Linked DNA regions of Homo sapiens: region 1 is linked to region 2. Evidence: fine-mapped expression QTL. A gene starts in region 2. The other region holds a variant in brackets. All regions are shown on one strand. Distances are between the middles of the regions.

Region 1 (10,526 bases), 130 kb after region 2:
CTCCATAGATAGAGCCCCGGCTGCCACAGGAGCATGGAAGTGACAACTCGTCCTGTGATAAAAGGGCATGGATTCAGTTCGGCAGTTCACTGGTGCTAAGGCTGAACATGCCCAGGGTCATTAGTGGTGTGAGGTCATTAGCATGTTTAGCACTCTGCCGGCGACGGGGTTTTTCACCAGCCTCAGCAAAGGGGAAGCAGTGAATTCCTGAGAGCTTTTCTTCCTGCCTTGGATTTGTCAGATCTGGGTCAGCCACTCCTTTCCCCCAATTTATCCTGCCAGCAGGTGTCTGAAGCGGCAGAGACAAGCTAATCAAAGCTGCTGGGAGTTAAAAATAAATCTCGAGTGTTGGGGATACACTCTGGCTAGGAGGAGGTGAGCAGGGCAGGCTGAAAACAGTGGCTCCTCCTTTCTCTCTTGTTTGTCCGTCTATCAGGAGTTTAAGGGGAATATGAAATCAATTCCTCATGGTTTTGCATTGCCCTTCCCTGTGTTCTTCCTATTCAAAGTGTGCTTTCCAGGCCAGCAGCACTGACCGCACTTAGAAGCTTGTTAGAAATGCAAAATCTCAGGCCCCACATCAGGCCTACTAAGTCAGAATTTGCATTTTAACAAGGTCTCCCTTTAAAAGGGAGGCAGCTCTTCTCTTAAAAGGAGCCTGGGTTTTGTGCCTTGAGTTCAAATGCAGCTCTACTACGTATTAAGCTAAATCTCCCTGCAACTTGTATTTGCATCAAGGATTAGAGAAACTCTGCCCTAGGTTTTCAGAGTTGCTGAATCCTTGACTCTTCAATGCTGAACCTAGGGAATTTGTGGCTAGTGTGATTATCAGGTGAACCCAATTGTCTTCCCTCAGCTTTTCCCTCTTCTGGTCTTTCTGGATTGTAGAAACCTCACAGAAGAGTCCCAAGAATTAACTGATTTTCAGGCCTGAGTCAATCCTGATTGCAAAACTCAAGTCCTGTCTAGGATGTCCGCACTCCGCAAAGTGTGCCAGAGAGCCACGGTCTGCAGGGAGCCCTCCTAGGTAGGTCAGAGGTCTGTCTGGCAAATACAGCCTATAAATGAGGTATGTTTCCATCAATTAAAGGATTTTGCTAGGCCTAGTCTGGTCAAGTTCTGGTAAGAAAACTCCACCACAGGGCCGGGCGTGGTGGCTCATGCCTGTAATCCCAGAACTTTGGGAGGCCGAGGTGGGCAGATCACCTGAGGTCAGGAGTTTGAGACCAGCCTGGCCAACATGGTGAAACCCCCTCTCTACTGAAAATACAAAAATTAGCCAGCTGTAGTGGTGCACGCCTGTAGTCCCAGCTTACTTGGGAGGCTGAGGCAGGAAAATCACTTGAACCCAGGAGGCGGAGGTTGCAATGAGCTGAGATTGTGCCACTGCACTCCAGCGTGGGTGACAGAGCAAGACTTTATCTCAAAAAAAAAAAAAAAAAAAAAAAAAGGAAAACACCATGGCACCAGAGGCCAGCCTTTATTTATGTGTAATTGAAACAAATGGTCATGCGGGAAAAACTGTTTTTCAAATGGAATATTCCAACAGTCTCTATCCTTTCGTCTCTACTTCAGGAGACCAATGTGATACTTCAGAAAGAAAACCCAAAGGGAGCATTTTGTGACCCTAAGTTTGTGGGACAAATTGGATTTTTAAAGTTAAATAAACCCTTTTCATACTTGCTGGACTAATGTCTGGAGAATGACTATCTTCCACTGGTGGTCAGGGAAGAAGGGATGGAGACCGTTAATGAGGAGACCTGGTCCTCCAGGTGTCTTAGGGTTCATTATAACCCAAGTCTTAATGGACTTCACCGAGTCCATGCCCAAGCCTCTTTTGAGCACCCACTATGTCCCAGGCACTCCCACCACAGCCCGGTCACTGAGAGGTTTAGGGGTCTCACCAGAGGTCAAAGGCAAAAAGCACCCCAGGACGCCCAGCTTTCTTTGCAGCAGAAGCAAGAAATGGGGAGTGGCAGCTTCGTTTCCAGGGAAGCCAGGAGAGGTGACTCTCATCACCCAGTCAGCCTCCGTAATTAGTATGCGTGGAGTGGAAAGTAATTAAATGCTACTCTTGGAGAAGAGATACTTGCGTTCTTGATGGCGCCTGATTATTTATTTCCTTGAGAGGATGAGAGAATGGTCGTTAGGGTTTCTGTCTGAGCCTGAGGTTTGCTCTCTTCCCTTCATCAGGGAAGGGAAGCCAAGGCCACTTTGCTCGCTGGGAAAGTGCTTTGGTTTCTTACTAATGCCTTTCTTCTAAAAGAACAATGAGCCACCTTAGCCCACAGCCCAGCAGCTCTGCACCCCGCCCAAGCCCTCATGCATATTCATCCTGCTTCAAAGAGCACAACATGGAATATGCAAATTAGCCATGCAGGAGCTGGTTGGCATTTTGATAACAGCTTTGTCTGAAAAACCCCAGAGACACATGCACATCTAGTTTCTCTCTTTCTCCCTTTCTCTTTTCTCTACCCCTGTGTCCTGCTTCTCACTCTCTTCCATTCCCAGCCTCCCAGAGAACAGGAAAATGAATCACAGAACCAAAGAAGCAAGTTATGGAGGAGCCCGGTGTCTCTATACCAGTCCAGTGTATTTCCACTTCTGCCTCTCCTCTCTCCTCCTTCAACAGAGTCGTTTTATTTTTTCCTACCAAAGTGTTGCCTGATCTGACAACATCCCAAGGTTTCCGGCTTGTCCTATGCTCTCCGTTGACTCCCCCGACTCTTGCCTGGGGACCCATTCTATGCCTGTCTCTCAGGGATTAACTTCCTTCCCTTTGTCTTTCTTCCATCTTCCAACCTGTTTTGCCCTTACTCTCAGCAGTCAAGGCTAAGAACCTAAGAACCTAGCCTTGCCTTCCAAGCAAGAAAGGAAAGGAATCAGCTGCACAGATCAGGAGAGAAGGTTTGGATATCAGCTGTCATCACCGACAGGTCACTGGGACTCAACATTTCCTGACACACACCAATTTCCAAAACACATCTGCACAACCATCACCAACAGTGCCGACGGCGGTGCTACTGCCCCCTCCTTTATCCCAGCAGCAGCGTCTCCTTCATGAGTTGCTTTCTAACCCCCTCCCATAGCAGAGCTACTTGAATAGCATGAAGAGGATTTTCTTAAGTTCAGATGACGTGAGTCCCGCTCCTTCTCCCCGAAATGCAGATGGTCAAGTCAGGAGCTGGTGGGTGACAGAGTAGGTGCTCTGCTATGGGAGAAGCAGGCTGGGGCTTGAAGCCCACATCCTTAGATGCTGTTTCATCCAGGACCTTGGAGGAGAAAGGCATAGGCAGGTGCAGGGATACAAGCACCTCTTGGGATTTGAGGACAGAGGGGGCCTCTCTCCTTGACTCCAAAGGCCAGCCTGGGTCAGCCAATGATTGGGGAGGCAGCTTATCTCCTAAAAGGAGCATGGGCTTTGTGCCTTGAGTTCAAATCCAGCTCTAGATACATATTAAGCTAAATAATTTTTTAGAAAATTACTTAATTTCTCTGAGCCTTGGTTTCCTCATTTAAAAAATGGGAATACTAATATTAATAATACTAGCAATTCTCCCACAGTTGTTTTAAATAATCTTTAGTGTCTAGCATATATGCTACGTGCTCAATGAAGTGTGACTTTTATTTTTTCCTAGTAAACTTTGAAAAGAGAAAGTGCTGGTTCTGTTGCGTCTTTAGCCTTGGGGACGTGACCATTTTTTCAATTCAACAGGCACAAAAAACCCGAAAACAAAATCAAAACAAGACAAGTACAACCTAGCCTGTTGCCCTAAAACGAGCTTTTTTTTTTCTTTTTCTGAGATGGGGTTTTGGAGTTTCACTAGTCGCCCAGGCTGGAGTGCAATGGTGTGATCTCAGCTCACTGCAACCTCTGCCTCCAGGTTCAAGTGATTCTCCTGCCTCAGCCTCTTGAGTAAGTGGGATTACAGCTGCTTGCTACCACGCCCTGCTAATTTTTAAAATATTTTTAGTAGAGATGGGGTTTCATCATGTTGGCCAGGCTGGTTTCGAACTCCTGACCTCAAGTGATCCACCAGCCTCGGCCTCCCAAAGTGCTGGGATTACAGGCATGAGCCGCCATGCCTGGCCTAAAACCAGCTTTACACCTACCCTTTATGCTCATTAAATCCTGCTTAGTGGTAGCCCAGGGAGCCCTGGTGCTTGCGGATTCTGGAACTAGCGGCCTCCAAGTACATCTGGACAAGAAGACAAAGTGAAGTGGCAAGAGTGGGAGTGTATTCTGGCTTCTCAGCAGGTTCATTCAAGGGAAGGGGTGGAGGAGGGATAGTGAAAAGTCACATTTATTTTTGAGCTTAGAGAACAGACTCTATTTCCACTGGCAAAGAGATGGGTGGGTTCACAGAAGAAAAACACACAGACCACTGCAGACATGCTCAGGGAAGCCTCCTGTGCTTTATGGATAGGCAAGACAGGTGGGAACATGAGGATTAGTTGAAGAGGTTGGAGAAAGGTCCTGTAGATCTCCTGAACTGCTGCTGCTACAAATTACATAAGCCCTGAAGACCACAAGTATGCAGTCTGGAGGGTTCCTACATATTCCCTCTGTCTGCAGAAGGCAGAGCTCAGATCACTGGGTGGAAGTTGGAGGGATCAGTTGGCTCTGTGTAACAACTTGGGTTTCTTTGCCCTGGGAGGTAGTGCGCAGTGTAAGGTAAAGAGAAATGACATTTTTTTTTTTTTTTTTTTTTGAGACGAGGTTTTGCTCTGTCATCCAGGCTGGAGTACAGTGGCATGATCATGGCTCACTGCAGCTTCAGCCTCCCGGGCTCAAGCAGTCCTCTCACCTCAGCCTCCTGGGTAGCTGGGACTACAGGCACGGGCAACCATGCCTGGCTATATATATTTTTATTTTTATTTTTGTACATATGGTGTGGGGGGGGTCTCACTATGTTGTCTAGGCTGGTCTCAAACTCCTGGGCTCAAGCAGTCCTCCTGCCTCGGCTTCCCAAAGTGTTGGGATTACAGGTGTGACCCACTGTGCCTGGCCAGGAGATGACAATTTAGTGTTCCGTGGGCAGGGTTCCTATATGGCACGGGTGAGTTGGGATTACTGACCCACAGTACCCTTTTCAGGGCTGAGAAATGATTTTTTTTTTAAACTCTAGGCTTGGATTCTTGTTAAGACACAAATTCAGCTGAGACGAGCAATACTGAGAGCATCAGGTGTTTTCCGCTCAGAGCGACTCACTGCAGGTCCTTTTGTGGAATCAGGTTGAGAATCTCTGGGGTGCTATTAAAAATGCACCTACCTGTGCTGCACCCTGTGAGTTTCTGATTCAGTAGATGGAGAATAGAACTTGGGTGCCTGTAACTGAAGCTTGCTCAGCAATTCTAAAGTGCATTCCAGCTGAGAAGCCCTGGGTTAGGGGTTGGAGGAGAGATGAAGACACCATTGGATTGGGAGGTGGGGAAGATTCCATCATAACAGAGCAGTTATTTAATATTTCACCTCCTTCCAAAATGTGTCCCCACACGATTCACAGTGTTCTCCAGTTGAAAAGGAAGCCAGACGTGTGAAGCTGTCTGGCTGTTGGAAGCTGGGCAATGATGTCAATGTCAGCTTCTCCAGCAGGGTGGGTGGCTTCCAAGGAGAGCAGCTGCATTCCCAGGAGAAGCCGAGAAGCTGCTAAGCTGTCATCCACAAGACTAGAGTTTCATGGACTATCAACCGAAGGGGCTCCTAGTGCCGTCTCCTCTAATCCCCTCAATATGCACATGAGGGAAGTTGCTTCAGATGGTCCCTGTGTGTAAGGGAAAGTTACGGGCAGAATCTCAACTACATCCAGGGGAGCCCAGTGTTCTTTCCTGTGCAAAGGGGTCAGGGGAGGTCCACAGATGGGCAGAGCTGGCCTTAAATGAATTTGGTAGAATAAAAATTTTGCAATACATCAGTGGAAACAGCTAGAATTTCTAGAACCTAGAAATTCACAGGAATAACAGGTGGATGTGAGGTATACACACCTGTAGTAGAATCTCTGAATAATAAGATGAGAAAAATGCAAAAATGAAAAGGTATAATGAGATACACATAACTGAAGGGAATTGTCTTAAATGGCTGATTGTAATGAGATGTACATAAATTGTAAGGCTTGTAATGAAATGAAAAGAAATCATATTCTTGCCTGATAATACTGGGTGTAATGTCTATACCAGAAATAAGTTGTCTCAGTGCATTGAGTGTAATGAGATGCACATAATTTTAAAGAGCGTAATGAGATGAAAAATAAATCAAACACTTGTCTTAAAATGAAAGATGTACTAAGATGCACACACCTGAAGGGCATTGTCCTAAATGGGTTCGATTTAATGAGATGCATTTAATTTGCAAAGGGGCTAAATGAGATTGGCCCAGAGAGAGGCTGAGAAAAAGTATAAGATACGCTGGAAAGTGGTATAATAAAACCTGCCTCATCTGTGGGATGGAAATAAGATGCCAAAGTGGAAATGGAGCGTGTGAGGTGACCACCATTCTGTCAGTCCTCGGTGCTCGGTCCCTTGGTCTGTGATGCTCTGCAAAATTCATCATCCTTTGTCCCTCATAGGTTACCAGGCACATAGTGGGCACCCGGGAATTTGTACTGAATGAATCACTGGCTTGAGGGTGGTAGTGTATCTGGCTAAAGG[A/C]AGTTAAAGGAGCAGCTATAAAGCAAGGAGCTTCAAAAGATGATTGAAAATTATTTTCTTTTTTTTTTAAATTTTTATTTTTGAGACAGAGTCTCACTCTGTTGCCCAGGCTGGAGTGCAGTGGCGCTATCTCGGCTCACTGCAACCTCCACCTCCCAAGTTCAAGCGATTCTCATGCCCCAACCTCCCAAGTAGCTGGGACTACAGGTGCATGCCACCACATTTGAGTAATTTTTATATTTTTAGTAGAGACAGGGTTTCACCATGTTGGCCAGGCTGGTCTCAAACTCCTGACCTCAAGTGATCTGCCTGCCTCAGCCTCCCAAAGTGCTGGGCATGAGCCACCATGCCCGGCCAACAATTGAAAACTATTTTCTGAGAGCAATGCTCCTCCAAGTCTTTGGGCATCTTGCCTAGCTATCTGGGGCAAACACCGGTTGTGGAACCTACATTGTATCTATAACAAGCAACCCTGGTGATTTTTATGCCTCTAGCCTCATTGTTGCCTGGGGAGGCAAGGTAGGCAGAAAATGTATGAGTGAAGATATCTGGATACGAGACACAGGTATACTTTGCAATGAAAGGTAGGAGTACTTTTATGCCCACAAACAAATACATTCTCTCCAATATTTTGTACCAAAGGCAGGGCCCTCCCTCTTGGACTATCTTGTTTTCTTACTCTTTTTTTTTTTTTTTTTTTTTTGAGATGGAGTCTTGCCCTGTCACCCAGGCTGGAGTGCAATGGCATGATCTCGGCTCACTGCAAATTCCGTCTCCCAGGTTCAAGTGATTCTCCTGCCTCAGCCTCCCGAGTAGCTGGGATTACAGGCATGCACCTCTATGCCCAGGTAATTTTTGTATTTTTAGTACAGACGGGGTTTCACCATGTTGGCCAGGCTGGTCTCGAACTCCTGACCTCATGATCCACCCGCCTTGACCTCCCAATTGGTCAAACTCAATTGACCTCAGGCCTCCCAGTTGGCCTCCCAAGAGGCCAAGCAATCCTCTTGATGGATTAATGAGTAGAGATAAATATTTCCCTTCTTAAAAACAACCACTTAGCTATTACAGCAAAAGGGGGTTTAAAAAAAAGGACATGGGGGAAGCTTAACTAAGCCACCAGCCACCCAAATAGTGACAGCCAATAGTAAATAAGCAATGAACCCTCAGCCTCCGTGTTGGGGAGACCACAGGGGCTGCGAATGTCCTGATGACACAGAGAACGTGCCTTAGGGGGCAGCAGTTAATTCAACTACACTCAATCATGGCCAAGTGGGATTATATAGGTCCCAAGTCGCCTGATTGCCTGATTTTTCAGGAGAAGCCAGGAATCTGATTTTTTAATGTGTAACCTTCTAACTTTTAAAAGTTGGCACACAATTTTTAGACAATATATGGCTCAAAACAGGTCTGAAAATTGAGCTTAACCTGAACCTCACAGTGGAGCTGAAAGCTTCCTGCTTTGCAACTCTGAATGAAGAAGTTTGAGTTCTCTGTGGTAAGGATGAGATCATAGTTATAGCCATTACAAGGATGCTACGAGCACTCTTTCAGTCTCAATCTTTTTCTTTTTTCTCATGCATATTCATTTTAAAATAGTAGAGATGCGGGCAGGTGGGGGCGGGTCTCACTATGTTTCCCAGACTGGTCTTAAAATCCTGGGCTCAGTGATCCTTCCACCTTGGACAACCAAAGGGTTGGGATTACAGGTGTGAGCCACCGTACCTGGCCCAGTCTCAGTTGTTTCTAGTAGAATGTAAACTCCCTGAAGTAAAGAACGCTGTCCTTGTTAGCCACAGGTGTATTCTTGTAAAACAGTGCCTGGGACAGAGTCGGGGCTTGATAAATGCATGCTGAGATAATGAATGACTCATCAGGAATGAATTGGAGCAGGCTGCAGTGTGGTGGTCATTGCCCTCCTGGGGCCCCATGCAAGGCAGGAGAGGGGATCCTCGGTCAAGGAAGTTGAGCTCTGGCCACCAACTCCCATGAGCAGGATCTCTGAGCTTGAAAAGTCTTTCCTGATGGGTCGGGGGGTGGGGGGCAGAAGTCAGTCTGAGAGTTGCCAGAGCCCTGATATCAGAGTTCGGTTTTGGGTAAAGGAAACCTTCCCCTACCCCTCGCCCTGTCATCCATCTCTTGAATTTCCACAGGGATTATGGCGTGTCTTTTCCTTGGGTTGGGCAGCATTTGGGTCATGCACAGAGAGAGGTTGTTGGCTCCTAAAAATACAACTACCTACATCTCAAGTGATTTCAGAAACCCCTTTTCAGCCGGGAGTGGTAGCTCACGCCTGTAACCTCAGCACTTCGGGTTGCCGAGGCAGGCAGATCTCTTGAGCTCAGGAGTTGGAGACCAGCCTGGGCAACATGACAAAACCCCATCTCTGCAAACACAAAACAAAACAAAAAAATTAGCTGGGCCTTGTGGTGCATGCCTGTAGTCTCAGCTACTCAGGAGGCCAAGGCAGGATAATCACTTGAACCTGGGAGGCGGAGGTTGCAGTAAGCCGAAATTGTGCCATGGTACTCCGGCCTGAGTGATGGGAGTGAAACCCTGTCTCAAAAATAAATAAATAAATAAATAATAATAATTTTAAAAGGCCGGGCGCAGTGGCTCACACCTGTAATCCCAGCACTTTCGGAGGCCAAGGCAGGTGGGTCACCTGAGGTCCGGAGTTCAAGACCAGCTTGACCAACATGGAGAAACCCCATCTCTACTAAAAATACAAAATTAGCAGGGTGTGTTGATTCATGCCTGTAATCCCAGCTACTTGGAAGGCTGAGGCAGGAGAATCGCTTGAACCCGGGAGGCAGAGGTTGCGGTGAGCCGAGATCGTGCCATTGCACTCCAGCCCTCCAGCCTGGGCAACAAGAGCAAAACTCCATCTCAAAAAAAAAAAGAAAAGAAAAAAGAAACCCACTTTCAGTTGGCAGCGTGGTTGAAAAGATGGCTGGCAGAACTTGATAGAAAAACTTGGCGGGGAGAGTGTAGGACAGGCTACTCTGCAATTTCTTTAGAATAGTGTTCCCTAAAGTGTGTTTTGTGGAATATTGGTATAACTTGAATAGATATTACTTGAAAAAAAGGGAGGTGGAGCAAATCTCGGAACAATTGAAACAAAGTTCAACAGGTTTCTTTCCTGTAGGACTTTTTAGAGCCTTTAGTATAATAATGTGCATGATGAAACTCTACTAACAAAACAGAATATGCAGTTAATCTTAGGCTAATTTGGGCATGGATTTTTTTTTTTTTTTTTGGTAGCATATCTTTCAACAGTGTGTTCCTTAGAAACCACTGTCTTAAAGGACTGTTGTCTTCCCAGCTCTGGAGGTGAGGTTCCAATCATCGTGCAGTTCTTAAGATTTTCTTCCTCTACCTAGAGAGGCGGGGTTTCTGTAGGGTTTGCAGAACTCTCTCCAGGTGTGAGGAGGGGGAGAGATGTTGGGCTCCCTGAGGGCAGTGATGCAGGGAACTCCACCAGAGCTGGTCAGAGCCCACTTCGCCTGTGTAACCAACCACTGGCTTCCCTATCTTCCACCTGGCCATGGGGTGATCTGCCAGTACGTGCAAACTCTCCAGCATTCCTGAACATGAACAAGGCACTCCCTTCCTGCTTCTAAACAGATGCCCCAGACCTCTCAGCAAGTGTGGCTAAAGAAGGTACCCTCTCGTCTGGAGCTGACAAGAAGGCCTGCCTCTCACTTCTGTGTGGAGATCAGCTGCCTGAGTTTCTTCTTGCCTGGGGGATTATGGTGCTGATCCCTGGGATTCAAGGCCGGGAATGGAGACAGGAAAGCAAAAGCCTTTGAGGGAGGTGGAGTATGGTGGACAAGAGGGACCAGATTCATAGCTTCCGCTGCGGTCGGGGAAGCTGT
Region 2 (16,039 bases):
CAGGAATACATATTAATTAAATTTAAAACTAACATCTGAAAACATCTGTGAATTGTTTAGATTAAGAAGTGATGAATTACTCTAAATTCTAAGTCAAAGGAAATATTTATCCATTCTTCAAAGTACCCAAATTTCAGTTAAGCCTGCACTGGGATTCTCAGTAAATGGTAGGCAATCTTTTCTGCTATAGGTTTCAATGCAAATTAACTCTTGTTGATCACTATAAGCAGAAGCAGGGAGAACCTTGTTCTTGTCTAGCCGTATCTGCCCTTCCCGAGTCCCCATAGTTGCTGTTAGCATTTTAAAATGTCTAGACAGTGTCAAGAGAAACTGCTACCTCTAATACTTGTGAATGAGTCATTTTAGAAACAAAATTCAAGTGTATATTCAGGGCTGTGACGTTTGCTTACATATAAGTGTGCTTTCCTGAGTGGGAATAAAATCTCTGCAGATGCACAGACTCCTGAGTTATATTTCTAAGTGTACATCAGCAGATGAAAACTATTTGTCTCAGTGTTTCAAGAAAACAGTTCATAGCTATCAACCCAGCAACAATCTGAAGATGCTTATAAGGCACCTGGAATTTAAAGAACTTACCCAGAACACTCCACCATTCCAAGCACAACACTGGAAAATTCTACTAACAATACGTGGCTCACTGGAAAAGATCACATGTATTTAGTTTATAAAGCATAAGTTATTTCCTAATTGTCATTCAGTAGTTCATTTTATATCTTATCTTTTGTGGGTACTGTATTATTTTTCAGTGCCTCATGTTCTCCCAATGTTCTAATGTCAGTCAATGAGAAAAGACTAAAAAAATGGTCAAGCGCAGTGGCTCACGGCTGTAATCCTAACACTTTGGGAGGCCGTGGTAGGCGATCAACTGAGGTCAGGAGTTCGAGACCAGCCTGGCCAACATGGCAAAACCCTGTCTCCACTAAAGAATATAAAAAATTAGCCAGGCGTGGTGGTGCGCACCTGTACTTCCAGCCAGCCGGTTCGCTGAGGCAGAAGAATTGCTTGGACCTGGGAGGCAGAGGCTGCAGTAAGCTGAGATTGCACCACGGCAATCTCAGGTGACAGCTTGGTGACAGGGCAAGAATCCGTCTCAAAAAAAAAAAAAAATGTGTATATATATGGAACCAGCTTTTAAAAGAAAAATAATTTATTTTCTAAAGTCTGATGATGGAAAAGATTAAGAGAAAGTGTGGGGCCAGGGTTCTTCTATTAATACATAAATCCACACAGGCTTCCCTAGAAGTATCTATCAAACCAAATAATATTTTGCGATTCTCTATTCAGCTTTCTGATTTAACACCATGACATTTTTAGCAAGGATTATTGTTAGACCCTAGTTTAAGTCAATGTTGTTGGGGGGAAATCACTTGCAACATTTTTCTGGGAAAAAGCACAAAAGAAATAAAATGGCACTGAAACATCAAGTCACTATGTAAGGTCTTCCCTCCCTTGGACATTTTGATATCAGGCATGCACTCCTTACCTCTCTTGCTTCCGCTCTATACTCTGGGCTCTTCTCTGTGCCAAGACACTACTTGCCCTTCTTCGACGCTGCTCCTCTCTCTTTTGCTGGATTCGAGCATCTAGCTTTGAGATGGTACAAATACCCCAGATGGAGTCTTTGATTCCCTATAGAAAAGGCTATCATTATTATTATTATTATTTGAGACAGGGTCTTGCTTTGTCACCCAAGCTACAGTGCAGTGACTCAATCATAGCTCACTGCAGCCTCCAACTCCTGGGTTCAAATGATCCTCCTGCCTCAGCCTCCCAAAGAGCTATGAGTACAGATGTGCACCACCACACCTGGCTTTTAAATTTTTCTTCTGTAGCGATGGGGATCTCACCATGTTGATCAGGCTGGTTTCATACTCCTGTCCTCAAGCAATCCTCCTGCCTAAGCCTCCCAAAGGCTAAGAATTCACTCATGCATCCATCTCCCACCCACGTACTGAGTATCTTCAATAAGCTATATATTGTCATATAGAAATGCTCAAGAAGCTTATAACTTAGTAGGAAAAGCACACAAGTAAACCAAAAAATTACATTAAAGGTTTTTTTTTAAAAAAGTTTTTAAATATGAAACATTTCATGAATTTGTGTGTCATGCACAGGAGCCATGGTAATCTCTGTATTGTTCCAATTTTAGTACATGTGCTGCAGAAGCAAGCACACATAGTTTAGTAAGTGCCACAACAGATGTATGGCCCAAGTAGAGTGTTAGCACTGGGGCATTCAACTTCATGAGAAGGCAGAAAAAATTATTCTGGAAGCAATGGCCAAGCTGGATTTAAGAATGGATAGCATTCTCGTCTACTGTTATCAGACAAAACGAATTTTAGAAATAATAGCTGGAATACAGAGAAATGGGCAAGTTGATGTATTATCTGTTAACAGGAACATAAATTGGCACAGTGTGCCTTTGATCTTTTTTTGTCTGAGTAATTTTTACTCTTAATTTTGCTTTTAACTCAGGAAACTCCAACTATCTAAGATAGTTAAGTTCAAATGGCTGAGGGCCTAGTACATGCTAGGATGATAGGATCCCCACCTCTAAGACATCTACAGTCCAGTGGGGCAGACAAACATGTAAATAGCACACTGTAGAACCAACACAGGGTTGAATTTTTTTTTTTTTTTAAACAGAGTCTTACTCTGTCGCCCAGGCTGGAGTGCAGTGGCATGATCTTGGCTCATTGCAACCTCTACCTCCCAGGTTCAAACGATTCTCCTGCCTCAGCCTCCTGAGTAGCTGGGATTATAGGCATGTGCACCACGCCTGGCTAAATCTTTTTTGTATTTTTAGTAGAGAGGGGGTTTTGCTGTGTTAGCCAGGCTGGGAGGGTTGAAATTTTACAGCACATGAATGGCAAGACAACAAGGTAAAGATGTTAAAAGTAGATCATATGCTGCTGGGCACGGTGGCTCATGCCTGTAATCCTAGCACTTTGGGAGGCTAAGGTGGGCAGATCACCTGAGGTCAGGAGTTCAAGACCAGCCTGGCCAACATGGTGAAACTCCGTCTCTACTAAAAATATAAAAATTAGCCAGGCGTGGTGGTGTGTGCTTGTAATCCCAGCTACCTGGGAGGTTGAGGCAGGAGAATCACTGGAACCCAAGAAGTGGAGGTTGCAGTGAGCCGAGATTGCACCACTGCCCTCCAGCCTGGGCGACACAGTGAGACTCTGTCAAAAAAAAAAAAAAAAAAAAAAGGAGATCATATGCATAAAGTCTTTTTAGACCTTCTAAGATACTCTTTCAATCCTCCCTCTTTTACTCAAAAGTAATAACCTTTTTACTTTCTTGCCCTGCTATAGTGCACTGGTACCATCATAGTTCACTACTGCTTCATACTCCCAGACTCAAGCAATCCTGCCTCCTTGGTCTCCCAAAGTGCTGAGATTACAGCTGTGAGCCACCTCCCCTGGCCATAAAGGTAACCTTTTAAACTCTTCCACTAAAGAAAGAACCTCCCCACTCCAAGAATTGGCCTCTTTCATGCTAGTGGAAATATAAGAGGGGGTTACAAGTGAGACATTATTAGGCTTCAGACATACATTAAAAGTAGCAGACTTTTGTGCTATTGGTAATTTGGATGACTGGGTCCTAACCAGATCTTTATAGGGCATTTTCCTAGAGTATCCTCCTCACGTGCACAGCTTGTAGAATGGGGAGAAAAAAGGTTCTGGCAGGTGCAGTGGCTCACTCCTATAATCCCGGCACTTTGGGAGGACAAGGCGGGTGGATCACTTGAGCCCAGGAGTTTGAGACCAGCCTGGGCAACATGCCAAAACTTCGTCTCTACTTTTAACAGAAAAATTTTTAAATAAATGAAAAATTGGGAAAAAAAAAAGATAGGTTCTCTAATTTAAATCTGAATTAATTAGTTTAGGTGATAGTACTGAACCAATGTTCATTTCTTAGTTGACAAATATACCACGGTTATATGTTAACATTAAGGGAAGCTGATGAAGGACATACAGGAACTCTCTGTACTACCTTATAACTTTTCTGTAAATCTAAACACATTCCAAAATAAAAAGTTAAAAAAAAAAAAAAAAAAAGCTCTGAAGCCAAGATGATTAGGGTCCCAATACTGGAGACATCCACCGAAGAGGTCTTCCAAGCACCTGCAAGACTGTCTGCAAGATGTAGAACAATACCTATTTCTTGAGTAGTGTGGTCTAGAATAACAACCTTTATGTAAAGAACCCAAGAAATATGATAAAAGTTCCAAAAACCCTAAAGGATTTCCTAGATGGTTCCTTCAGCAAAAAAAAAAAAGGCCGAGAGATGAATTCCTATAAACAAGATGTACTCACTCTGGCAAGGTCCTGGAGAAAGGTTTTGACACTGTCAGCCATCTCTTCACCACCAAACTATCAACTACACACAGGAGAGAGAAGTGTCCCCAAATCTCTCATCATGAAGGATCTGGAAACAGATGGAACATAATGGAGGCAAATATTTATTTTAAAGATAAGTTACTTCATGCACATTTCCACATGATGACCTCACATACTTGTAGCTCTAGTAAGATAGCAGTAGATTCTAGCACTAATAGAGTGAATCAAGTGAAGCTATTCCTGTACAGCTGAAACCTAAAATCCCTATTTTTTTTCTAAAACACTCACCACCCTTTCATTTTTACAAGGGGTTTTACATTTTACACCCTCTCATTTTTACATTTTACATTTTTACAATGTGCTCTTGACCAGTAACCTCCTCTGAGCCTCAATGCCCCTAACTATCCCTCCTACACATTCTAAGCACTTTTGAGGGTTTGGAGATGGAAGATAATTACATTTCAATATCTTCTTAAGCAATTTTTATGTTTGCTGGATACCTTCAAATACTTGAATGAAAATACAAGAGCAAGATAAAAGTTCTTACAAAAATTACTAAATACATGCTTCAGTCATACAGAGCCCTCGGGCACAGTAAAGTTTAAGGTATGACATGAAATTGCGTACCAAAACCTCCAAATAGGTCTTTTTTATTTTATTTTATTTTTTGAGACAGAGTCTCGCTCTTGTTGCCCAGGCTGGAGTGCAACACTGGGCTCGGCTCACTGCAACCTCCACCTCCCAGGTTCAAGTGATTCTCTTGCCTCAGCCTCCCGAGTAGCTGAGATTACAGGAACCCGCCACCACGCCCAGCTAATTTTGTGTATTTTTAGTAGAGATGGGGTTTCGCCATGTTGGCCAGGCTGATCTCAAACTCCTGATCTCAGGTGATCCATCCATCTCAGCCTCCCAAAGTGCTAGGATTACAGGCATGAGCCACCACGCCCGGCTGGTCTTTTCTGTTTTCTAACTTTAAATATATACAGATACAATTTTAATAAACATGCAATAAATAGTGGATTTTAAACTAGGCCTCAAAAAAGTTCATATGTATAAACAGTCTTTAAAACAGTAAGGCTTTCCCATTTTATTTCTCAGGTGAATGGGATATCTAGTTTCAAAAATTAAGAACTTGAGAGTTCATGTGAGAAATACTTGTAATTAATATACTATTCTCTCATTTAATCTGTGGTGACTTCTAAGATGAATAGAAAACCCACTTTCAGGCATTTTTTAAGAACCTGATATTCTAAAGTTCTCAACACTCACTCAATCAAGTTGCAGTATTCTCAGTTTAAGAGGTATGACCATAATACAAAGACAGAATTTCACAAGCAGCTTGTACAAACCTTAAATTTCAAAATATAAGCACACTTTCCCCGACCTTTAACCACTTCACCAAACTGCTCCTCATTGACCCAACTGGACTAATGCCATTCAGAACTGGAAGAGCAGGGGATATGGCAGTAGGAAGGCAATTTGCCCAACATTGTATATACCCTCTGCTCCTTAGGTCAAATCCTACACAGATAGGCTCACTTCGGATAGAAGTCTCTAGGGTAAGAAACTTCTGTTAATACTCCCACTGTTTCCTCCTGAAAACAAACACCTCAGAGTTCCAGTCGCGTAGGTACAGCCATACAGACATGTTCTCAGGGTTGAGGTGAGGGCAGCTGAGCTAGATAACTAGCAAAGGCTCAGTGATATGCACGACACTAGTTTGTAAAGACTCACAGATCCACTCCCGTAACCTGCCACTGGCTCATCTATAAATTAAGGGTACTAAACTTCTTCATAGGTTTCTTGCATCTAATAGGGCACAACAGCATGAAAAAAACTTAAAATTCTATATAAACACAACCCCACCAAAGTGAGCCAGCTTGGAGGTTTAAGGAAGCCCATTACTTGGCCTGGATTTCTCACAGGGAACTGACAGGGAACCTGAAACATTCTGTCTCAGTCCACAACAGCTGTGTCATTTGATCCCTGGCCAGCTAACACCTGGTTTCTGCATGTACCAAGTGGCAGGACACCTCCTAAGAGTGACCTATGAAGGATAAATCACTTCACTTTTATACTTAGATCCTAACATCCTTCCTACAGGAATATTTGGTGAATTACCCAGTCTGACAAATAGCTGAGGCATGGGGAAAAATAACCTGCCACAATTTGAGAACACACACACAGACTGAATGACACAGGGGGAATCCTACAGCTGAGCTAGACAGATGAAGATGCATCTGGCTCATTTAACAGGTGAGAGAACCCAGTCTCAGAAGTTAAATGACTTGCCCAGACTGACAGCAAATGAATGGCAGCTACAGTGAACCTCAGAACCCGGTGTTCTAACGTTACCTCGGTCGAGACTTGTTTTTACTTAAGCTTTGCAATGAAGATTTTTGTTTTAACACGAGCATCCCATGGACAAATAACCTCTCAAACCTGGAAATACAAATGCCATTAAATTCCCAACAGTCATTAGAAGCTAATAAGCATCTGCTGAGACACACTTTTATTTCTAAGTCACTAAACCCAAGTCTCGGCAAACAGGAAGCTGTCGTAGCCCACTCCAGGTACAGGGAAGGTAAACATCCTCACTTCCCACGGGGCTCCACGGGCTGCCTCTGAGTCCACGGGTCCATTCAGGCCCATCTCCCCACAGCTCCTAGGCAATTCGGCAGAAAACTGGTCTCCCTAGGCACAACTGTGCACGAGGTACGGATCACGCGAGGTGCGGATCACGCACGCTCCGGGTCACACAGGGAGCTAAAGATAGCTGCGCCGCACCTGGGGCAGCCTCGCCCGGGGATGTGCCCGGCCCCGTCCCGCTCCCTCCGGCCCCTTCCCATAAGGGGTCCTCGCCGGTAGCCCCACCAACCCACGCTCGGGCCCTGCCTGCCCTCCCGGTCCCTGCCACTCAGAATGGGCGGCGCGGCGGCCCCGAGGCCTAGCTCGGCTGAGCCCGCACCTACCCACAGCTCCGCCGCCGCGGCTCCGGCCCTGCCCCTAGCCCACCGCAGGCCAGCTCCGCCGGGGCGCTTCCAGGGCCGGGGCCGCTGCGCCCGCACTGGGCATGCCCGGGCCGCACGGGGCCGCTGGGAAGTCGGGCGAGCGCGAAGAACCAGCCGGCACCACGAGGCGGGGCCCAGAGCCGAAGGGGTGGGCCGCGCGGAGCGACGGAGACTGGGAAATGTAGTCAGTCCGGGGTCCCGCCTCGCGCTGCGTGCGGGATCGTCCGGCTCCCAACTCCGCCTGGCGGCGGAGAGGACCCCTCACCCCTCCGCGTCGCCTCCTCCCCGTCGCCTCCTCGCCGATCCCGTTCTCACAGATCTCTCCTCCTGTTCTTTGCCCTCCCCCATTGACTCCACAACGCTGCTTGCGTTTCTAAAATCCTGTGAAATTAGTAACAGGATGCCTTTAATCCCAGCATTTTGGGAGGCCAAGGCAGGCAGATCACGAGGTCAGGAGTTCAAGACCAGCCTGGCCAACATAGCGAAACCCCATCTCTACTAAAATAACAAAAATTAGCCAGGTGTGGTGGTACCTGCCTGTGGTCCCAGCTACTCAGGAGGCTGAGGCAGGAGAATTACTTGAACTCAGGGGATGAAGGTTGCAGTGAGCCGAGATCACACCACTGCACTCCTGCCTGGGCGACTGAGCAAGACTCAGTCTCAAAATAATAATAATAATAATAAATTTAAAAAATGAAATAAAATAAGTGGCTGGGCACGGTGGCTCATGCGTGTAACCTCAGCACTTTGGGAAGCTGAGGCGGGCAGATCACTTGAGGCCACCCTGGCCAAGATGGTGAAATCCCGTCTCTACTAAAAATACAAAAAATTAGCTGGGCATGGTGGCACACACCTGTGGTCCCAGCTACTTGGTCGGCTAAGGAATGAGAATCACTTCAATTCAGGAGGCAGAGGTTGCGGTGAGCCGAGATCGCACTACTGCACTTCAGCCTGGGTGACACAGCTAGACTGTCTCGAAAAATAAAATAAAATAAAACAAAACAAAACAATATAAAATAGAATAGAATAAGGAATCCATCTACTAAAGCTTAGAAATCTTGTTACAAAGAGACCTAAGTGGTTTAATGACAAACTGATTATTGTGCTATTAATTATAATAATAGCTCTTCCTCCAAGCTCTATTCTTTCTCAAGAGTGTCAATTTAGAAAAGATTTTAGAAAGAATTTAGTAGGTATGAGTTTATTCTGGCTTACTTCATGGGAGGAAATCTTTTTTTTTTTTTTTTTTTGAGACTGAGTCTGTCTTTGTCTCCCAGGCTGGAGTGCAGTGGTGCGATCTCGGCTCACTGCAAGCTCCGCCCCCTGGGTTCACGCCATTCTCCTGCCTCAGCCTCCTGAGTAGCTGGGACTACAGGCACCTGCCACCAAGCATGGCTAATTTTTTTGTATTTTTAGTAGAGACGGGGTTTCACCGTGTTAGCCAGGATGGTCTCGATCTCCTGACCTCGTGGTCCGCCCACCTACAGCCTCCCAAAGTGCTGGGATTACAGGCGTGAGCCACTGCGCCTGGCCGGGAGGAAATCTTTTAAATCTCAACATGTATAACCACATTTAAAATAAAAACCAATAATAATTAATACCTTGCATTTTTAAAGAGCTCTCACATGCTTATGTATGATTAGATGCTATTTGTGGACAAGTAGAGGATATTATTTTCCAAATTTCACAAATGAGGAAGTTTGTGGCAGAGCACTTTGAGAAGACATGACCTCCAGTTAAGCTGTGAACCTTAGTTTCTTTTTTTTTTTTTTTTTTTTTTTGAGACAGTGTCTCTCTATCTTGGCTCACTGCAAGCTCCACCTCCCGGGTTCACACCATTCTCCTGTCTCAGCCTCCCAAGTAGCTGGGACTACAGGTGCCCGCCACCACGCCCGGCTAATTTTTTGTATTTTTAGTAGAGACGGGGTTTCACCATGTTAGCCAGGATGGTCTCGATCTTCTGACCTCGTGATCCACCCGCCTTGGCCTCCCAAAGTGCTGGGATTACAGGTGTGAGCCAGCACGCCTGGCCCAAACCTTAGTTTCTTTAACACAGGCTGCTGAAATAAATGGTATATATATGAAGGTGTTTTTTAACTGTATGGATATATGATTTAGTGAAATGATAACAATACTAGATCTAGTGATAGCGACAGGAGACAGCCAAATGCCTAGGCAGTTAGTGGCGGGTCCCCATTGAAACCCCACCTCCAAGCCAAAAACAGTTTAAAGCTCGAAAGCCAAGCTACAAGTTAAGTCCTCAGACCAGATTGAGAACTTGTCTTCCTGTCTTGCATGTTTTCCTCTGATTGATCCCCACCCTTCACCTATTTTACATATACCTACCCTTTCCTGATTGGTTTTCTACACTGTTGTGCCCACCTTTGAGTGGTGCCTTTGCTTTAACCTTTCTTGCATAGCCACAAACCAATCTGCACATACTCCCCATCCTGTGCCTATAAGGACCCCTGACTTAGTCAGTAGAGTGGGAGACCGCCTGACTTTGAGGAAGACGACCTGCCCTTCCTGTCCCTTCTCCAGCTCCCCTCACTGCTGAGACTCGTTTTCATCACTAAAAAAAATTCTCTGCCCTCAACATCCTTCTTTGTTTTTTTCTTTGTTTTTTTTTTTGAGACAGAGTCTTGCTCTGTCACCCAGGCTGGAGTGCAATGGTGCAATCTCAGCTCACTGCAACCTATGCCTCCTGGGTTCAAGCAATTCTCCTGCCTCAGCCTCCTAAGTAGCTGGGATTATAGGCACCTGCCACCACGCCCAGCTAAGTTTTTGTATTTTTAGTAGAGATGGGGTTTCACCATGTTGGCCAGGCTGATCTCAAACTCCTGACCTCAGGTGATCCACCCACCTCAGGCTCTCAAAGTGTTGAGATTACTGGCGTGAGCCACCGCACCTGGCCCGCCATCCTTCAATCCTGCATGTGACCTCATTCTTCTTGGACACTGGACAAGAGCTTGGGACCCACCAAGTACAGGTACCCAGAAAGGCTGTCACACTGGTCCTTTGCCCCCACCAGTGGAAGGCAGCTGCCCCACGTGACAAGGCAAAGGGCCAACTGAGCTACTAACACACTGCTGTTTGTGGATGATGAAACTAAAGGAGCACTGTAACACCCGCTCTGAGGCTTCAGGGTCATGGGCACTTTCACCTGGGCACTGCAGTGTTCCTCTTGAGGCAACATGCCTGGTCTGGCCACAGGCCCCACACAGAGCTTGCTCCTGTGCCAGTGCCCAGAGTGGCTGGCTGGATCTTGAACTTGCTTGCTCATGTGCTCCCTCCTGCAAGTGGTTGATTGTGGTGGGCCTGGTAGACAAGGCGCCCCCTTCCATGAGTTTGTCAAAGGGGCCAAGAAAAATCCTGCATCATTAGGGGCCAGATCTCCTAGCTTCCAGCCTTGGAATCTTCTAGGAGAGAGAGATACTATGATTTATTAAGCATCTACTATACCAAGCCTTTTATATTTATTATTTCAACAACAATTTAAGTGTTGTAATGAAAAATTATCACTATTTTTTTTTGTTTTTGAGATAGAGTCTCACTCTGACACTCAGGCTGGAGTACAGTGGCATGATCATGGCTCACTGAAGCCTTGACCTCCTGGGCCTAAGCAATCCTCTTGCCTCAGCCTCCTGAGTAGCTGTTGTAGCTGATTTAAAAAAAAATTCCATGCCTTCCTATTAAGAAAAAAAAACTCCAACCAGGTTTGTCTAACGCCCGATTCCACACCCTTTCCTCTACCATATTTGTGTTCCATTATGGATCACAAAAGTCTTCTCATTTAAATTTAGGTTGTGTATTGTCATTATTAAAGTAGTGCTCCTCTTTGTTTTGCCTGTGGTTGCTAAAAGAAAAAAAGAGAGAGAGAAAGAAAATAATGAAAGTGTTGGCCAGTATGGTGGCTCATGCCTGTAATCCCAGTACTTTGGGAGGCAGAGGCGGGTGGATCACCTGAGGTCAGAAGTTTGAGACCAGCCTGAACAACATGGTGAAACCCTGTCTCTTCTAAAAATACAAAAATTAGCCTGGTGTGGTTGTGCACACCTGTAGTCCCAGCTACTCAGGAGGCTGATGCAGGAGAATCACTTGAACCTGGGAGGTGGAGGTTGCAGTGAGCTGAGATTGTGCCACTGCACTCCAGCCTGGGCACTAGAGCGAGACTCTGTCTCAAAAAAAAAAAAAACAAAAAAAAACTGCCATTCCTCATGGGTCTTACAGATGCAACTCCCTGCTGGGAACTCAAGCCCTTTTTTTTGCCAGGAAAGGTAAAATCATCTGGGGGTAGAACCAAAAAATGTACAGGTTAATAGAATTATGAAATTTAAGATGTTTAAACAGGGTTTATGTAACGTAGTTGTAATCTCTTTGCCTAAATGTCTTATGAAAATGGGTATTGTATCTAGCTGGAGGATGCTTCCCCTATCTAGTACTATAAAACCAAAGACATGTAAAGCTGCTCTTTTGAAAAGTGTTAGTTGGACATGTTAATGGGAAATAGTAAAATCACCTGAGCCCACAAAGTATCAGGTAGAAGCTAGAGTACTAGTTGGGACAAATCATCCCCTTCATAGCCCTTTGTGGAGTGTTTATTGGGGATAATGGCAAAAAACAAAACAAAACAAAAAACTCTTATAAGTACTTCCCAATGACAACTACCGGACTAGAGAATTTCCACTTGAGGTGCATTTACTGCCTTGCTATGAAATGTTAACTGAAGCTACCCCTATGCTAACTGAAATAATGATGCCCCAAAGAGTTCCATGATAAAATAAAATCTTGCCACCTGGGGATACAAGGAGGAGATACTCATAAGCAGGGAGCCGCTTTCTCCCTAGGACTGATTCTAACTATGTATGTGAGGAGCTGCTAAATTCTGCAGTGCCTGATAGACAGCTTTCATGAGCTGTTTGGCTTACGAAGGGCATTTCCAAGGTAAACAAACATCTTGTTTGAAACTCCTGACCTCAAGTGATCTGACCGCCTTGTCCTCCTAAAGTGCTGGGATTACAGGCCTGAGCCACCACACCTGGCCAGGAACAGCAAATTTGATAAGGCTTCTCAAACAGTCCTATGATTTTGCAAGAGGGAAACTTATGTAAAAGGGGACCTCTTAACCCCCAAATTTCCCATGACCTGGGTAATAGGCATCTTCAGTGGGAGGATATCCCAGTTATCATAAAGCCAGTCATTGCTCTCATATGAAGCATATTATTCAATAACTGCTTCATCTGGGGTGCTTCACTTGGTATTTTATAGGGAGAGCTGGGTAGTCCGCTTCACAGGGCAAACAGACCTTACAGTGGCATTTATCTGGTCTGCTAGCTGATCATTCTTTCAGGAATAACCTCCTGTGCATTTAGATTACATATACTTATCAGTGATTGTTCAATAGTGAGCTGTGGGCTCTGCATTAACCCAAACAAGTTCTTCAATTCTGTAGCATTTAAAATTAAGGATTTTGTCCATAAATTGTTTATTTTTACAATCCACTATAGTAAAGATTTTTTAAGAAGCTGATGATACCAATCTACAAAATGGAACCATTCCTTTACATTATACCCTCTGGGTTTGTTTTGTTTTTTGTTTTGAGATGGAGTCTTGCTCTGTCACCCAGGCTGGAGTGCAGTGGCATGATCTTGGCTCACTGCAACCTCCACCTCCCAGGTTCAAGCGATTCTCCTGCCTCAGCCTCCCAAGTAGCTGGGTCTACAGGCGCCCACCACCACACCCAGCTAATTTTTGTATTTTTAGTAGAGACGAGGTTTCACCATAATGGCCAGGCTAGTCTTGAATTCCTGACCTCGTGATCCGCCCACCTCGGCCTCCCAAAGTGCTGGGATTACAGATGTGAGCCACTGTGCCCAGCCTATCCTCTGGTTTTGATAGTTACTTGGTTTTGCCTTTCACCCACATCAACTATCTTCTTGGAAGCCACAGGTCTCTGAGATAAACTTATTTCCCTGTCTTAATTTGTGTTTTTTTTTTTTTTTTTTGAGACGGAGTCTCGCTCTTTCGCGCAGGCTGGAGTGCAGTGGCGCAATCTCGGCTCACTGCAACCTCTGCCCCCCAGGTTCAAGCGATTCTCCTGCCTCAGCCTCCCAAGTAGCTGGGACTACAGGCATGTGCCACCAGGCCCGGCTAATTTTTTGTATTTTTAGTAGAGACGGGGTTTCACCGTGTTAGCCAGGATGATCTCGATCTTCTGACCTTGTGATCCGCTCGCCTCAGCCTCCCAAAGTGCTGGGATTACAGGCGTGAGCCACCGCGTCCGGACCTTAATTGTTTTTTTAACCATTACTTTTACTTGTATACTTTTTCCTTCAGCTTAAAGTGACTTTTCAATTGTTTCTTAACTAGAAAGAAACACACTTTTTGTTTTTTGCAAAATCCTTATCTTTGTGTTTTATAAACTTCGCCAAAAACATTTTTTATGCTCCATTTTAATTTAGTAACCCAAATTTCCTATGGAAAAAAAAATCGAGGTTTTAACATAATATGACTTAAACCTTTTAAATTACTGGAGACAGTTTTGAGGTTAAATTTAACAAATTAATTTTACCAAAGATTACCAAGATCATGTGAATTAAAAGTGTCTGAGCTAATTTTTACTAATCTGATAAGCATTTCTTTTCTTTTAAGTCAATTGATTAGCTCTTTTATGTAGTTTGGTAGTGATAAAAGAAAAACTTTAGCAGAAATAAATTTAAAGGAGTTTAACTGAGCAAGGAATGATTTGTGAATCGGGCAGCCTCCTGAGCCAGAGTAGGCTCTGAGACTTCAGTGCAGCCACATGGTGGAAGAAGATTTATGGACAGAAAAAGGAAAGTGACATACAAAAAACGAAAGTGAGGTACAGACAGCTGGATTGGTTACAGGTTGGAGTTTGCCTTATTTGAACACAGTTCAAACAATTGGCTACATTTCATTGGCCAAAACCTTGTGATTGGCACAACTGTAGGCTACGGTCTGTTTACACCTCCACTTGTTACAGTTCACGATGTACAGATAAACCTTTAGGTTCAACTTAAAATATATAAGGAGGCAGCTTTAGGCTAAACTTTTTTTTCTTCTTGTCATACTTTAGTAGGCATAGGCTAATCTTGATTTAAAAATTCCCCACTTTTGGTCATCTTCTCAATTTTGAGAGATTGACCAAAACTTCAGTCATTGATGTCACTAATACCATCATAAATGTACTTATTTGGTCTTGAAACCCACTGGGAAATAGTAGAACAGCAGGTTTTGTAAAGTAGGAACAAAGACTGAGTAGAGGGTACCTCCTTAACAAAGACTGAGTAGAGGGTACCTCCTTATGCCTGAACATCCTGTTTATAGGAGAAAAATAAAACCTGGTCTGGTCTAGAACCTATGTGTTTTCTTAAAGTCTTAGTTTGATTATGTCACATTTAGCATGAGTAACTCCATTTTGGTTTGGTCTGGTCCACTGGGGCCTAGTTCATGAGCTCAGTCCAAAACAATGGCCTCCCATAATGTTGTTTTAAAATTCCCCCCTTTCAGTCAGGTTCTTACTTAGGTGAGGGTGTGACCAAAACTTAGGGCCTCAGCACCACTCTCAGTTACCATCATTTTGGGTTTCCGGTCTCAGCACATCACTTATAGGTTACAGTGTCCTTATGGTCAGACATTTCTTTCAGCTCTTGAAACTGTAGTTGAAGAGAGACCATTTGACATTCTAGAGATGGCTGCATGCAAACACTTAAAATCTTTGAGAGAATACAGCACACCAGAGAGACTACTATTATGACTATCAGGAGGCTAACACCAAGAGTATGGAGTATGCTCCTTACCAATGGTCTCCATAAACCAAACCACGTAAAACTAAATAGATCAAAGAATGAGTTAGATAAAGAGTCTACTCACGTAACTAAGCAGTCTCTTAATTAATCCCCTGCAACTGAATCTCTATAATGTACATTTGAGGTATTTCTCCATAGACCACAAGTGCCAGCAGGTGCACAGATACTTCTGTTTAGCCAGTAAGTAATCTAGAGCAATACTATTATTTAGCATAACTTTCACAAGAGAATTTAAAGTCTGTTGCATAACCATGGCCTTTACAGCAGAATCTGCTATAGAGCCTATCATGAGGGATACATTTCTAATCATTGCCTCTTTTACTCCAAACCGTCGAAAAAAGGACCTAACAAATGATGTCCTTCTAGAAGAGTGAAGGCCTCCTGGCAATATTCTCTTTAACCCATGATGTGGGTTAAGAGTAGTGAACCAATGTTCTGTTTCTGGCTGACTGTGAGGCAATGTATGTATCGTTAAAGTTTCTCAACCTACGTTGGGCTTTCATCTTTCATCTATCAAAATGTAAGGTTATCTGTGTATAAAGCTGGCTACAAAATCCCTGACAAATAAAAGTATACCCCATAAGTGCACAGAACAGACCCCCTTTTCACCTCTATTGTCTATAGAGGCATAAGCAAAGGGAAAAATATTCAAAGATAAATATTCTACTATCTCATGATAGTAGAGAAGTCTTGATTCATGATCTTGGGAAAAGCTGTCCACATCAAGGATGCCATTTTCTTAGGAGAAACTTCCCAGGTTAGCTTTTCCTTAAGGGTTCCAATGGGTGTACAGTTCCAAGAGTGTAGAGGGACCCTTCTTGGTTGTGAGATT

What was found.
Region 1: its variant is fine-mapped to the expression of EI24 in whole blood (INTERVAL, PIP 0.92).

What each region holds. Positions count from the first base shown.
Region 1 is chr11:125,433,652-125,444,177 of GRCh38, reverse strand. It overlaps FEZ1 (fasciculation and elongation protein zeta 1), which reads left to right. Exons shown (of 10, transcript NM_005103.5): 10 at 1-1,297. Among named protein-coding and RNA genes, the nearest start is that of FEZ1, 57 kb to the left of the region's middle. RefSeq lists a silencer at 10,411-10,526. The variant A/C (reference allele first, on the strand shown) is at 6,649.
Region 2 is chr11:125,560,874-125,576,912 of GRCh38, reverse strand. EI24 (EI24 autophagy associated transmembrane protein) reads right to left here and starts at 7,436. Exons shown (of 11, transcript NM_004879.5): 1 at 7,340-7,436; 2 at 4,344-4,455; 3 at 1,505-1,650; 4 at 598-658. The coding sequence starts at 4,385. It overlaps STT3A-AS1 (STT3A antisense RNA 1), which reads left to right. Exons shown (of 4, transcript NR_132372.1): 2 at 3,339-3,457; 3 at 6,471-6,623; 4 at 8,795-8,805. It also overlaps the pseudogene RNU6-1156P. RefSeq lists enhancers at 6,719-6,768, 7,271-7,772 and a silencer at 7,209-7,768.